2 separate regions of the Homo sapiens genome follow, and region 1 is linked to region 2. A link means that fine-mapping ties the variant in region 2 to the expression of a gene that starts in the linked region. Tissue or cell type: whole blood. Region 2 holds a variant in brackets; the other region holds the start of a gene. All regions are shown on one strand. Distances are between the middles of the regions.

Region 1 (8,105 bases), 91 kb before region 2:
GGACAGCAAAGCACCATAGGAAAGGAGCAAATCAGAAGAGACCTACAGACACCAAGCAAGACACTGAATAAACCAATTTACTCTGGTCATTTAACACATATTTAATGAATGCCTACCATGTGCAGGCACAATTTATTATACATAGGCAAATAGGCTAGGGTTAATCACCTAGAGATTCAAGGAAAACACCCAGCTTCATAGGCACGCAAATAAAAGCCTTATCCTCACTCAGAGGCCAAACCAACAGCACCAATTTTGTATCCACCAAAACATCCGATTCCCAAAGGTCCACTAGTGCCTCTAAAAAAACCTTAAATGTGAAAATATTTTTAAAGTTTTTAAAAATAAATTGTTAAGTTTTGGTTTTCATTTGCAGTAAAAACATTTGGCTAAATTGCCTTTAGAGGCACCAGCCATGTCAGTTTACAAGGTCCCTTCATAAGCCACTATCAGGAGTTTAAATTGTGGGATTATGTTATTGAATATATGCAAAGAACATATTAAAAGTGCTCATAAATTCCAGTTATAATTATTATTGTTAATTGTTTTATTTATTATTCTATTAGACTCTAGTAGCCAAAAAGCAAAACCAACACAGCAGAGAAACCGCAGGGGGGCGGGGCTGTACAGCCAGGGCTCAGGCAAGGAAGGTGCGCAGGTGCAGAGGACCGGCGCCTGAAGGGAGGGGCTGAGGGTTCACACTGCGCATGTGTGCTAGCCGGCTCTGAGGGAGGTGGGACTATAGGCCAGCCCGGCAGAGGCAGGCTTAGGGAGGGGCCAAGCCTTGGAGAGGCGGGGCCTGAGCAGGCTACCTAAGAGGAGGCGGGCCTGGGGAGGTGGGATCTGGGTGAGCTCACATCAGAGGAGGCGGGCCCAGGAGAGGCGGGGCCTGGGCAGTTCACCTCAGAGGAGGCGGGCCCAGGAGAGGCGGGGCCTGGGCAGTTCACCTCAGAGGAGGCGGGCCCAGGAGAGGTGGGGTCTGGGCAGTTCACCTCAGAGGAGGCGGGCCCAGGAGAGGCGGGGCCTGGGCAGTTCACCTCAGAGGAGGCGGGCCCAGGAGAGGTGGGGCCTGGGCAGTTCACCTCAGAGGGGGCGGCCCCGGGAGAGGCGGGGCCTGGACAGTTCACCTCAGAGTAGGTGGGCCCGGGAGAGGCAGGGCCTGGGCAGCTCACCACAGAAAAGGCGGGCCTGGAAGAGGCGGGGCCTGAGCAGCTCACCTCAGAATGAGGTGGCCAGAGAGAGGTGGGGCCTGGGCAGGCAGGCGCTAAGGAGCTGGGAGGAGGGGCCTGAGGAGGCCGCATCTAGAAGGCGCGCTCTGGGAAGGCGCGCTGCAGGGGAGGCGCGCTCTGAGGAGGCGCTGTAGGAGGAGGCGCTAAGCACCGCAGAGAAGGCACACTAGGATGGGCGGGGCAGGCCTGAGACTGGCTGCTACAGGGCTGCAGAGTATCTGCACACCCCCCCCCCCCGCCGCCAGAATCCCCCCTCCCAAACCCCTCCCACCAGTCACCAAAGCCAGATTCATTTCATGCAGCAAGAGCAATCCACAGATCCAATTCCCCCGCCATACTCAGCAAACCCACAGTTTCCACAAACTGTTGCTGGACGCTGATTCGCGCCACCACAACTACACCGCCACTTCAATCAAGCACAAGTAGGCAGGCAGCCTGCTCTGCCATCACCAAAAGATTCCCATTTCCACTCCAATCAGTGCCCCTCCACTCCACTGCTATAGCGGGAATGGTGTGGGCAGAATGTTAAACACTAATTTTTGCCCGGGGCTCCATTTTGTCTACCAGCACCATCATGCGAGAACCGTCCTGCAGAAAAATAGAGTGGGAGCCATTCCAAAAGGTGAAAGGGTGGGGTCCTGCTCCAAGAAAACAGAGGAATTGTACTCCGCAGCTCATGTCCCACTACGGCTGCTTTATTTGTAGCGCAAACGGTCTGCAGCTCCTGTACCTCTGCAGCTCTTACCACTTTGTAGTGCATCTTAGGTGTGAATTGTTCCGCAGCTCATGTACCTCTGCAGTTCATGTGCCTCGCAGCGCAATGAAGCGCTGTTGTCGGGCTGGCTAATCGCATCGTTTTTGTAGCGTTTTTTGTAGTGCTACTCTTCTGCAGCTCAGATTTTGCAGCGCATGTAAAGCGCAATTCAGTTTTCTGTCTGCAGCTCCTATATCGCTGCTCCTCGTTCTGGATTGTAGCGCCACTGAAGCGCCCATCCGTCAGTTTGTGGCACATAAAGCGCCCATCAGTTTATAGCGCAATGAAGCGCCAGTTGTAGCTCCCATCAGTTTGTCGCCCGCGTGAAGCGTGCTTGTAGCGCATCTGAAGCGCCAGTTTGTAGCGCATTTGAAGCGCTTATCTGTTTGTAAAGCATGGCACTTGGTAGCGCATTTGAAGAGCAAATTGCAAATCGATCTATAGCTCCTGACCGTCTGCAGCTCATCACTGTCCGCAGCTCATCTCTGTCTACAGCCCGTATCTGGACTTGGTCCTGGAAACCCAAGCCTTTAAGGCTTGGTTTCCCCATTTGTTTTGGGGTACAGCCAGTGAAGGCGTGACAAGTTTTGCGTGGAGACATTCTGGGGTGCTACTCCATCTCCCGCAGCTCCCGATAAGCACGGGGAATGAACGTGATCTTTAAAAAAAAAACGTCCTCACCGCATACTCACCACGCGAGGACTCCTCTGCGAAGACAGGAAGGATGGGGTCCCACACCTGAGCCAGGCGCGGTCTCCACTGGGTGCTCCGCAGCCCGGAGTGGCTCCGGACGACAGCCCGCTCAGCGGACCTTTCGCCAGGCTCGGTGGACCTTCTCCGCTGTTCTCCTCAGGGCGCAGTCAGGTTTCTTCGACACACACCAACCGAAGTTGAAGCGCGTGTACCAGGAGCGCAGACTGTGAGCCTTATATAGGTTGCACCGAGGAGGGGGGCGCCAAATCCCAGCGTGCTCCGCGGGCTAGGGGGTGGAGGGGGGTGCGGGGATGGGGGATGGGGGTGGGGGCGGTGGCCACGCTGCAGTGGCCCGCCGCTAGAGGGAGTACGGGATTACCGAGGGGGTGCGGGATGCTGATGCTGAACTGGCCAAGCTGGGAGGGAAGAAGAAAGGGAGGGGAGGGGAGAATCGAGGACGGACGGCCTAGCCAGGCCAAGAATGCAATTGCCCCGGTGGTGGGAGCTGGGAGACCCCTGTGCTTGGACGGGACAGGGTCGGGGGACACGCAGGATGAGCCCCGCGACCACTGGCACATTCTTGCTGACAGGTTAGTGGCCTGCGCGCGACGTGGAGGTCCCGGGGCCAACAGGCCGCCGCCTCCCCCTCCCCCGCTCGGGTTCCGGGCGCCTGAGCGCGCCCTTTGGGCACCAGCCTCTCTTTCTGTCCCGGACCCCACCGTACCCCTCCTTCAGTACACCCTGTACCCCATTTCCCCGGCCCAGCTTCTCTCTCCCCAGGCTTGACCCCTGGCCTTTTTTTCCTCTCCGCGCCCCCGCGGGCCCCTCCCTGCTCTGCGGGCGCAGAAATTCCATCTCCAATTCCTGTTCCCAACATCCCCCTCCCCGCCCAGCCCCAGGGTAGTCCTCTCCCGATCCCTGTAGCAAAGAGCTGGGGGTCGTTGCCTGTTTTTCTGGGGGGCCCGTTTCCCCGCGATTGGGCTCTGCGACCGCGATGCGAGCCAAAGGAAATGGGTGTCAAGCTGCGTCCCCGCTACACAAACACATCTTTTTTCCTTTTCTTGATAGTGGTAGAGAACACAAAAATGTGACATTTAAAACACCGAATTTCCCCCTCTTGCTAAGTGCATTTCTCGGTGACGGAAATCTCGGTTTTCTTCGGTTTTACGGAGCAGGGAAGCGGAATCATGAAATGCTGGGAGCTAAACAGGGCGTTCAGGTCAGGGTTAACCCCGGCTGGAGGCCAGAGATGCTGCCGTACCGAGTGCGCTATTTCCAGAAACCAAAACCAATTTAAAACAGCTGTGGATGCTTCCAGTGTGTTTGGCGGGCTTTGAAGGCTCCCAGCTACCGACTTTTGGTGGCGATTACGAGGTTTACACAGAGACCTTGCTTCCCTTGCAACGTTACATTTTCCTAAATCTTGTAGGGTGAATGAATGCGTTTAGTCACGGCAACCGCACGTTTAATCCTTTCCAGCGGGTTGCCGAGATTCGGCCACAAATATTTGCGTGCATTTGTACTATGAACATATATATTTTATGTCAGGGAAAATTGCAGTGGCTGATAAGACGCTAAAATTCTGATGAGGAAGGATGCTAAATAAAACCTTAACGCGGATTCCCATCTAAGCGCCTCAGTGTCAGGTGCTTGGGAAACTGACAATCTGTTGATGATCTTAGTAAAACAAGTTTAAGTTAAAAGGGAAAACCAAATTGTCTACAGCTGAGTTAGGTTTCTGAAACACAGATGAAACGCTTTCATATTTGAAGAGCAAAATTGAGCACATTTTAGTAACATTGCTACGGATTATTTTATACTTGGAATATCAATAAGAATTTGACTTATTGTCATAACAACGTTGCAGACACCGCACTTTAAAAGAGAGCCTTTCTAGGAATAAACAAAACTGTAGCCCATTTACTGAGATTTTACTTTTTATTAGAAAATGCCCACTATCCGGAATATGAATGAATGAAATGCAGCTTTTTAACAAAGACATTTCCCTAGGAAGTTGGGTAAACACAATTATACTTTTTAGAAGTGCCTTTTAATTTAATCTTTAGGATGTTCACCCTCTTCTGCAAGATAGAATAATTCCAGGATTTCTTATGCTTGGTAGAGTACTGTTCTGGTGACCGCTGTCAAATTCTTACCAGTTTTGTTTGTTTGTTTAAATTCGAAAGTTACTTCACCTAGTTAACTGAGACATTATTTTTCTAAAAATTGAGATTTAAAACCAGTATAGATGAAAAGCAGGAAAAATTAAAGTTCAAAAATCCATCTTAAGACTTTAAAAGTTTGAACAAGTTTGAACCAATTTGATTTTTTCATTTCAAAATGCTAACCAGGACTTTTTTTAAAAAACGTAATTAGTATTTTACCATAATAAAAGTAATTTCAGGTCATTGTACAAAATTCAGGAGAGAAAACCCTAGAAAACTCTAAAGAAAAGGTCACCTGTAACCTATTCACCCTGCAATAACACCAGTAAACATTATAGAGTCTGCTTTTTCAGACGTTCTCTATGCATATATAGGTAGCTATACAATAAATATTTTTCATAGGATTGCAGTTAAATACTTTCTAAAAGTTAAAAACAAGATCAAATTAATTCTCCTCGATTATTTTCTTTCCAAAGAGCCTTTAAATGTTAAATAACATTAAGTTTGGAGAGCTTTCTTTAAAGGAAATAATATTAATTTTTTAATTAAAATTTTAAATGAACAACCTTAGTACATAAATATTTAAAACCAGAAAACTGAGAAGAATTTTCTCCCATCTCACTATTCTAACATATTGTAGTTTTTTATTCCTCTACATATGAAAATATTTTCACTTTGCTTAGAAATAGAATTTTCTAAGGGAAAAAACAGCATCAATATATAAGTAATTTAGATAAAACCTTTTTGTTATCCAAAAAACAAAACAATACTAAAAATAAAACAGAAAGATAACATTAATAGAGCAATACTTTAGGTAACATTTTTGTGTTGTCTAGAACAACAAACATTTTCAAAACCAAAACCAAAACCAAATTAATAGATAAGAACTTTAAACATATTTTGGATATTTAATATCTATGTGAATTTTGGATTTTCTCAGATATTTATTTCTGGTGTTGACTATTTCTGCCCATTTTGCACAGGGTTGCATATACAGCAAAGAGGAGTTAATGTGTATTATTTATTTTATCAAATAATAACTGGGCTTCGTATTTAGACATTTTATCTATTTTTATGAGAATTTGCTGTAGATCTACGAAGCTGTTGATTTAACACCTATATTTAACTTCTAGTATGTTAAGAAAATTGTATTTCAAAACAAAGTGGGATTTTCACTTGTTAGATAATAACTAGACTTTCTCTTTGGACATTTTACCCATTTAATGAAAATTTGCCATGTATTTATAAAGCTGTTGAATTTACCTTATGTATTTAGCTTAAGTTCTAGGGTTTTAGAAAACGATTTCAAAACAAACTGGAATTTTCACTTGTAAAATAGTAATTGTACTTTCTATTTGGACATTTTATCCCTTTTTAATGACAATTTGCTATAGATCTATGCATCTGCTGACTTACCACATATATTTGGCTTAATTTCTAATATAGAGAAAATATATTTCTAAGCAAAGTAAAATTTTCAGTTGTCAAATAATAACTGGACTTTCTATTTGGACACCTTATTCATTTTTAATGACAATTGCTATGGATTTACGAACCTGCTGACTTACCACCTGTATTTGGCTTAAGTTCTGGTATGGTACGGAAAATTTATTTCTAAGCAAAGTACAATTTCCAGTTGTCAAAGAGTAAGTGGACTTTGTATTGAACATTTTATCCATTTTTACAACAGTTTGCCATAAATCTAAAAGCTGTTGATTTGCTTCATGTATTTTACTTATCCTATAGTATGGTGGATAAATTGCATTTCTAAGCAAAGTGGCATTTTCACTTGTCTCACAGACATTGAAAATAAGGGACAACACCAGAAAAAACTGGTTAGCGACAACCTCAAGGAAATAAAGATAACATGTATCCAGTTTCTAACACTAGTTTTCCACTGGTGAAAATCATGCAGTACACAAAATATTGAAGTAGTGAAGAAATCCTGACTTGTTAAAAAAATTCCCAAGTCAAATATTCAGATTGTTTCTGATTCTAATAAGTGCAGTATTTATAGATCACATTTTCTCCAAAATACCCAGCCACCTTCTTCCTTTTTCTTTTTTGCTAATTATCCATAATCTACCCAAATCCTTTCCTTAAAACTTACCCTTCCATATTCTGTAAACACCTAAATGCATATTCTAACACTTATTTCCTACCTCCAGTGTAAAAAAATGACTCTAGGGGAATTGATGATATGGGTCTGTGTTCGTTAGAAATTCTTGGGCTGGAGGGGAGATCGCTTAGTCCATAGCTTCACAGAAATATCAATATGATGGCTGTTTTCTTTCTATCCCTCTCAACCTCCCCAGCAGAGACAGACAGACAGACAGATGTGAGGAGCATACATAGACTAACGCACACTCCATTCAGGCTTTTTCTAAACTTCGGAATCCAGTTCTCCAGTCTGTTATCTCCCTGATTTCCAGAAATATTAAGCCTAAAGTAGCAGTACGAGAAACAAAAAAAAAAAATAATAAAGAAGAAAAAGCCAATGTTTCTAGGTATCAATAAGTCTTTTCAAGTGAATATGTTTCTGATTCAAGTTTTCAGGTTGATAGGATCAGATAGAGTCTCAATGCTCTTAAATGCTATTTCACATGGATTGCTTCCAAGCCAAATTCTCTCTTCATAATTCCCAGTGTTTTAAATTCTGTAACCGTATTAAAGACAGTATTAAGTAAAAAACAAATCTCCAGTTTCCACAGACTGACTCTGGAACAACCATTTCCATTGATGTTGTATCCCTTCTAGTCTTTGTTCTGTGTACATAAATATTTGTATATAATTATAATTTTAATATGTATAGATTTCTTACACTTTGTTTTGAAAGATAAGTTAATCCTGCTTTCTGCAAAGCATTTGTCAAGGATGCAGGATGCTCTTGTGTATGAGGTGGTGTGCAGATTAATTAGCAGTATTGCTGTGTGAGCGGGAGGCAGACTGAACCAGCACCGGCGAGGTGTATACGTTCTTGGGTTTGCGTCAGGGTATCGTCCCTGGTTAAGGATCATAAGCCTTTGCCCTGAGTTTTGTCTTCCTCAGCATTTGTACGAATGACTTTGATGAAGATCTAAGAGGCTTGCTTTAAAATCCATGGATTAATTGAAAAGGGATAGCTGTTAGAAATAGGTAACAATTTAGAGTTAACATGGTTTTTAAGTGGGCTGCAATGCTGTGCTGAAAGCAAAAAAATATTTTATAGTAGTAAATGCATCATAATTCATTGGTATGGAAGTATGGAGATGACTTTGTATGGTG
Region 2 (8,107 bases):
TATTTTATTTTTGAACCATCTAAATTTATTCCCTATTCAAAAATACATACATAACAAGGAAATAATAAAGGACCTTGCCTTTGAAAAAAGAAGCTAGCAGGCATAGGCTGGCAACAGTAGACATTCCTATTTCAGTTCTCTCCACATAGCTTCCCTGGTATTTTAAAGATGACCACAATGTTGAGAGACAGGGGCTTACAAACTCTCTGGTGTCTTCTTTCTGAAATCCCCTTACTGCACTGGTATTTTCAAGGCTAGTACCTTGCCAAAAATGAAGTATACACATGCTTCATGAGGTAAAAAAGGGGCTCATGGCAATTTTCATTTTTGTTTCAATAATATGTCTTTCTTTTACATGGCCCTACTCAGATATTAGAATTCTGAAGAAAGATAAGGTAACCACTGGTATGACAGAAGCAGGGCATAGGAGGCTCAAATCAATAGAGAATAAATAAAAACTAGGCCATTTCAACATGTTAGAAAAGAGAAAAATAAATCACTATAATAAAGAGCAGTCAACAAAAAATACATATTAAACAAGATGGATGAGTTCTAGCCTCTGACAATCACGAAGCAAAATCTGGTATGTGGGTGTGAACTCACAGACTTGGTTCCAATAGGAAATAAATCTGTAACAGAAAGATTAAAAAAAAAAAAGGATGGAAGCAGTAAGACTAAACATCACAGTTAGCAGAATAAATGTGAAAGTGTGTAACACCTCTGGTAAATATCTGGAGTATAGCCATTCTGTTTGGATGATTGAGAGTACAAATTCAAGTATAAACTGCTAGAGGATCCACCAGGGTTAGGAGAAATATTTCTGCATGCTAAAAAGCCTAACCAGAAGAGCCATCATACTGCCACACCATGATGAGCCGAGGGGTAGTTAAGACCTGGCTAAGGTTCTCCTCAGGAAGAAACTGAATTTGCTCTTAATCACAGACAAATGGTCAATTGAGGGCCCAGATTTCTGCTCCATATAGCACAGACTCAATAATTTTACTCTGTTAAATGTTTAAGGAAGGTGTAACCAAAAGCCCACTATGGCACATTTGAAAAAAAGAGAGAGAAAAGTCAATAAAGCTTCCATTAGAATGCCTAGCTTTAAGCAGTGTTGCTTCCTGATGCACCCTCCAAGTTAAACTATTTATGTAATGGAGACCAAAGTAATGGAATTAAAGTACTATATGGAATCATTCAACTATGAAACAGCCATAAGTTGGAGAAAACCTGTGTTTAAAAAAAATTGTAAGAGTTCTTTATGTAAGGATGTTAAAAGTGGTCTATTTGTCAAGTTTTTTTTTTCAATTTGACTCTTAATTTTGTTTGCAGCATTTCTTTTGACTAAGAAATATTTCTTTTTTATAAGTATTATAATCACATTCATTTTGCTTTCTTTTGTTTATATGCTTGAGCTATTCTTTATCAGAAATTAGATAAAAATTAAATTATATTTTGTTTCCCTCCTTTCCTTGCTTATAAAATTCTATGTACACTGTACTAAGAATTTTCACATATACATGATTCTATTCCCAGTTTTATTTCTGGTGTTTTGATGAAGCCCATGAATTTAATTGTAAATTTCTGCATTCATTTGTTATTAACTATAAATGCTCACCTCATTCTTTGTGGTTGACATGAAAATATGCTGCTCAGCTCTCCCTTCAAAAAACCTATTGTGAGGAAGTCCTGGCTCTCCCTGGGCTGCTGATCCCAGCCAATGACTGGGCATGGAAGCGGTACTAGAGCCAGCTCATTCCCGCTCAATGATTGACACTTCCAATGGTAATCTTGGTTTTGGAGCTCCCCATCATCCTAGCCAAGACTTTCTTGAAACTACATTGCATTCTGAAGCTCTTCTTACCCAATTCTCTGACTACCCCTGGTACCTTTCCCCTTTATCCTTCACAAGTATTTTCCTTAGCAAATGTATTGCACATATGATTCTGTCTGCTTCTAGGGAACCCAAAGTGACATAGTTGGCACCTGGAATGGTCTGAGAATGTATATGGTTAGATGAGGTTAGGAGACTGGCTCACTCATGCTCGGCAGGCAACGAGAAGCCCTTACTAAGCAGAATGTGAATCATGAAGTCCTTGGGATAGGTGATAGCTTAATTGCTGAAATTTCCATTAGTGGTGACCTGGGAGAATGTCCTGGTGGAGGGAAGCATCCTTACTAATGTGATAATTGAGGCATTTGAAGGTTTTGGGAGGAACAGCACCTACAGGGACAGTTAAGTCAGTGGGTTATTGCTCACTTGTATGACTGTCCTGTAGATGGAGGATGAGAAGCTGAAGGCAGTTAACAGACATAAGCTAAGTTTTACAGCCACAGGACCTTTTAGGACGCTTACAAAGAGGAACTATACCTTCAGTGGGTGGTAAGTTCAGGATTTAATAACTAGGGTTACAGAGCACCAGAGGTGTTTAAATGCTCAGCCAAGGCAGGTCTATTACGCTAAATTTAGGACCCTTATGTGAAGCCTGGGACTCTGAAACATGGGTTGGGAATATACACAGAACTAGTCTTGCTATTCACAATGGGTTGATAGGCCCCAAAATAATAGAGGCCAGGTAGTGGCACATAAGTGTCAGAGTTGCTTTACCATTAGAGTCTTGGGGGTAGCCAAAGGGTCTTAATGGGAAGGAGTAGTATACATAGATAATAGAATATGGTGTCTCTAGGGGAAAAATAGATGGGCAGCGAATTACTGTGCTACTTAACATATACAACCAGAAGGCAAGAATAGAGGAGCAGGAGGCTGAGAGCTGTAGCCCAATAAAGCACTGCAATTCCTTGCTGATTTCCCAGATCTGAGACTATGTTCAGATCTGGAACCCATTACCTAAAGAGTTAGCCAATTTCCCAAGAGAAAGAACCCTGCAATGCAATGACAAAGATATAGAGTACTGCAAAGCTTTCTTCAGTTCTTCCCTCATAGAGATTTACAGACATTTACTAATGTGATTGTTGCTGTTAAAAGGAGAGTAACCAGCCTTTTTGACAACTATTTGACATTGATACATGAAGACCCAAAGTATTTTCATGGCCTTCAGAGTGGGCGCACGCAAAGACTAAGTAGTAAATGGGGTTCTGGCCAAAGTAGGTTCACTATGTCCATGGATCCATCCTGTTGGACCATGCACCCCATTTACTACTACTTTAGCCAGGACCCTGCAGTCATTTCCTGAATGTATAATTGGAATTTATATACTTGAAAATTGAAGTTAGCCTCAATTGGGTCCTTTGCCTGTGGGGCAAGAGCTATCATAGAGGATGAAGGCCAAGTGGAAGACTTTGAAACTGCCTCCCTAACTGCCAAAGACGGTAAATTACAATTTCTTATCCCAGGGGTGATGGAAGGTATTAGTGCAACCATTAAAGATCCAAAGAATGCAGGGATAGTGGTCCCTATCATATCACTTTAATTCATTAGTCTGGCCCTGCAGAAACCAGATGGATCTTGAGGAATATCAGTACACTACAACAAGCTCAACCAAGCAGTAGCCTGGACCACAACTGTTGTGCCAGACACAGTTTCATTGCTAGAGCAGAGTAGTAAGGCCTCAGGTACATGTCTACTGGCTTAGTGAATGTGTTCTTTCCATTCTAATCAGAAATTGTGTGCATTCACATGAAAGAGACAAAAATACTCATTTGCTTCTTCGCTATGGTAACTCTTTTGCTGTGT[C/GTC]ATAAAATAGTCTGAAGAGATCTAAACTATCTAAACATCCCATAGGATATTATGTTGATTATGTTGAGGACATCATGCTCATAAACTGGTTATCACACTGGAGGTCTTGGTGAGACATGCGTACTCTAGAGTATGGGAAATAAGCCATTAAAAGACTAGTAGTCTTGCCACTTAAGTACACTTTTTAAGAGTCCAGCAGTCAGGGCTATGACAAGACATGTCCATCAAAATAAAAAACACATTGCTGCATCTTGTATTCCCTACTGCAAAGAAAGAAGCTCCTAGTGCCTAGTAGGCTCTTTGGGTTCTGGGGGCAACACATTCCACACTTAGGGATACTGCTCTGGACATATACCAAATGATAAAAATGGTAGCCAGCTTTCAGCGGGGGCGTGGGGGAGGGGGGCTAAATGAGGGCTGTGCTATTAATGAAAAATGTATGGATTTGATAAAACAAAAAATGTAAGAAATAACAGTCAAAACAGAAGACAACTGGCAACTGGGAAAAGTGTTTGCAAAATTAGAGTTTTCATCCTTATTACACAAGGAATACTTCTAAATTACCAAGAAAAAGACAAGCCCTTAAGTTGCACAAGGATAAAAAAAAATAAGCAGGCATTTTAAGAAAAAAATTGAAAGTGGTAAGTAATTAGTTATGGCTTCATTCTCTAATTGACCAAACCACCAAAAAATTGTTTTTCCTCAAATTCCTTAGCTATGTATAAGAGTTTTCCAGAGCTTAACTATTATCTCCACAGAGGCCTTTTCTGACCCTTGCATGGAAGACGCCTCTTTAATGTTGCCTCCGTTTAGGATATTTGGAAAAGGGGGTAAGGAGGGAGGTAGTATAACCACTTTTCTTGTGTGGTCCACTCAACGTCTTCAGGTTCCATGTCCCTTCTTGCTACTCATTTCTCCAGCAATTTAGTCACTACTCACTTTGTCATACATCATTGGAGATTCATAGAGCAGAACCCCCCTAAAGGTGATACTGCTGTTTCTACAAAGGCCTTTGTATGTAAGATAGGGTTGAGCATAAGGAAGATCTTACTCCTTCTAGGTACCATCATATCAGGTTGTTCCGGTGTCTCTTATTTTTCTGAAGGGCCAGGAAAACTAAGCTGTAAAATACAGGAATTTTCCTGAATCCTCCAGCATTCTCTGGCATAAAAAAAAAGGGGGTCAGCTGAGACTACATCCCAGTAGGAGACCACCTGGTCTAAAATGAAACCACTCCCAGACTGGAACATGTTGACATGGCAGTAAGAAGCATCCATAGAAGAGGTTATTGCTACGTCATAAGGGCAAGTGTGTACCAACACCTTGAGTTTGCAGCCTGACATCTGGTCCACAGAGCAGCAATTTCAAAAGAGGAAACAATTGGCAGTTAGAGAAGGAAATGGCATAGCTACCATTGGAATTTTTGGTAATCTCAAAGAAAAAAAAAAGGAAACTGTATCGACTGAAAAGAAACACATGAAGTGAACAGGATAAGGAGAACTTTCGGCCTTATTTTCATAAATTGCAGAGAACTGTGAACATTTGTTATAGGGACATTTCGTGAGCAACTCAGGGACCCTAATGAGGAGATAAATGACTTGGAAGACTAGGATTTTCAAACATAACCAGTGAGGCAAAAATATTACTACTACCATTTGTATATACTATGACTCTTGATCATCCTGACTGGTGTGGTCTGAAGAAACACTTAGGACTACCAGACTGCCTCATTTCAAAAAAGAATGTAAGATGGCTTATAAGGCTAGGCAAAATATAGCCAAATAACATCATCTGAAGTATATGAGAAGGAAAAAGGGATCAAGAATGAGACTAATATAAACAATACCAAAGTGCCCTGTTTTCTAGATGGAGCACAAATTTAGCTCTTGCTTCTTATCGGCAAACATAAAAAGCCAACTCACAATGTACCTAAGATAGTAGCAAATGAACTGTTTACAAGAGGTGCAAATATTACAGTAAGGTCAGAATAACTTCAGACTCCACAAAAAGAGCCCATTGTGTGATGTAATCAACATTCCTACAGTTGACACAATGATGAGTTTCATAGAATTGTTTATAGAATGTCCTGCAATGCTAACCAATGGCTTCAAACTCAAGAGAAATTCTAGGGGTAAGTCAGGAAGTTACTGTCCAGGCGGTCTTTGCTAGGTGCTTGCCAGACTTAATTCTCAGGTACATTCTAAAGTATCTGAGGAAGTGATAAAAAGCAAATCCCTAACATTCCTTTATAAATACTGTTAACCACAGTCAAACTCACAGAAGATAGATATTAGCTAGCTGACGGTTCATGACTGGAGTTCAGCCACCCTAGGGTTCTAAGAAAAACTGTCTTAATGAGACATTAAGCTGGTGTAGGAGTGACATCTTTTAGGCAAACTTGAGTTTAATAATCAGTAGTTTCTGAGAGAATACTCTAGAGTTTGACCGAGGTTCTCTTTAGGAAAAAAAAAAATTGAATCTGTGCTCTCACACAGACAGATGGGCCATTTAGGTTCCAAAGTTCTGCTCAATATAACCTAGTCTTAATTAATTTTAGTTTGGAAAATGTTTAAGGAAGGCATAACAGTGGCCATTAAAAAATCTTTGCCCTCCCCGCAATTCCCAAAAAGCATCCATAGAAAGCCTAACTTTGAGTACTGTGGTTTCCTGATGTTCTTCCAAGTTAAATTATTTATGTAATGAACATTGAGGTATCTGAATGAAGTGACCTTCTGTGTAGAATTAGGAACCAAGTGAAATTTGGAAAACAGCTTGGTGTTTCTAAACTATAAGAGCTCTCTATATACCCAGGATATTAATTTTTTTTTGAGGCAGAGTTTCGCTCTTGTTGCCCAGGCTGGAGTGCAATAGCGTGATCTCGGCTCATTGCAACCTCTGCCTCTGGGTTCAAACGATTCTCCTGCCTCAGCCTCCCAAGTAGCTGGAATTACAGGCCCCCACCACCACACCTGGCTAATTTTTTGTATTTTTAGTAGAGATGGGGTTTTGCCATATTGGCCAGGCTGGTCACGAACCAGGACATTAAATTCTCATCAAATATTAATGTTCTAAAATGTTCCCACTTGTATTTTTTCTATTATGTTTTTGGGCATACTGAAATTTTAAATTTTCACGTAATAGATGTAGCAATTCTGGATTTACCTTTTAGCCTTAACAGGTCATTTCTCATCTAAGAATGAGATGTTCACCTACATTTTCTACTGTTTATTTTACATGTCTTTAAACCTATTAATCATTTTATATTTCTTTTGGTATACAGAGTAAGAATGGGAATTTATCACTCTCACCCCTCAATTAAGCAATAGTCCCAGGGCTATTTAAAGAATATTTCTACCTTTCCCCAGTAATGTGAAATCAAACCATTACCTTATTCTAATATCTTTTGATAAAATCTGTTTTTATGCTGATTCTATCCATTAATCTATATATTCTTGCATCCATTCCACACTGATATTAGTGTAAATAATATATCCAAATATACAACTTTACAAATCCCACTTCTCCCGTTACTCTAAAACTTTTCCTGGATATTCTGGCCCAGGTATTACTTCTTTATAGTTTCCATTTTTAATTTTGTAGTCTCTGAGAAAGGGCTCCAGTTCCATGTGCCTTATGCATTACGTACTTTGGAAGTACTGGATTCCTCAGACTTCAACTAAATGTTTTTCCATCACTTTGTCTCTCCCAGTGACAGGGTCTAGAGGTGGGGATAAAATGGAAGGGGTCAAGGAAAGAAAGTGCTGAATTCTTAGTTCTAGTTTTCTCTCAACACCAGAAATAACTGCCACTATTTTCTCCTGACTAACCTAAGAAAAACACATCATGCCACTCCCAATATTAGTTATCTTCAAAAACCTGTCTAGTCTAGTCTTATGAAGGAAGGCATATTCATTCCGTCTATCAGCAGGACTTTGACCCTGTGACTTGTTAAAAACAAAACAAATACTAACCTACTTATGAAAGAGCTACAGTCAAAAATCAAGTACTAAGGATGGATAGAAAAGAGAAAGACAAAGCCTAAGAATTAAAACAACAAAACAAACCAACAAAACTGCCAGATATAGAATCAAGCTTTATTTTTACTGAATGATAGTATAAGCTTTTAATATAACATAGGCATGTATAATATTGAAGATATTTTAATTTGAAAATAAAGGGAAAATACATTTAATTATTCCATTTTTCTTAGTTTTACTTTGAATTCCAAATAAGAATTTTAATACATTTTTGGCTGGGCACGGTGGCTCACGCCTATATCCTAGCACTTTGGGAGACCGAGGAAGGTGGATCACCTGAGGTCAGGAATTCGACAACAGCCTGGCCAACACGGTGAAACCCCGTCTCTACTAAAAATATAAAAATTAGCCAGGCATGGTGGTGCACACCTGTAAT

The links. PIP is the estimated chance that this variant, and not a neighbour inherited with it, causes the effect.
Region 1: it holds the start of SGCE, and the variant in region 2 is fine-mapped to the expression of SGCE in whole blood (TOPMed, PIP 0.94).

What each region holds. Positions count from the first base shown.
Region 1 is chr7:94,651,151-94,659,255 of GRCh38, reverse strand. It overlaps SGCE (sarcoglycan epsilon), which reads left to right and starts at 3,123. Exons shown (of 11, transcript NM_003919.3): 1 at 3,123-3,266. The coding sequence starts at 3,158. PEG10 (paternally expressed 10) reads right to left here and starts at 2,931. Exons shown (of 2, transcript NM_001172437.2): 1 at 2,665-2,931. The coding sequence starts at 2,669. RefSeq lists enhancers at 605-899, 1,679-1,728, 2,998-3,775 and a silencer at 969-1,208.
Region 2 is chr7:94,559,662-94,567,768 of GRCh38, reverse strand. It overlaps a transcript of CASD1 not described here. Among named protein-coding and RNA genes, the nearest start is that of CASD1, 54 kb to the right of the region's middle. The variant C/GTC (reference allele first, on the strand shown) is at 3,695.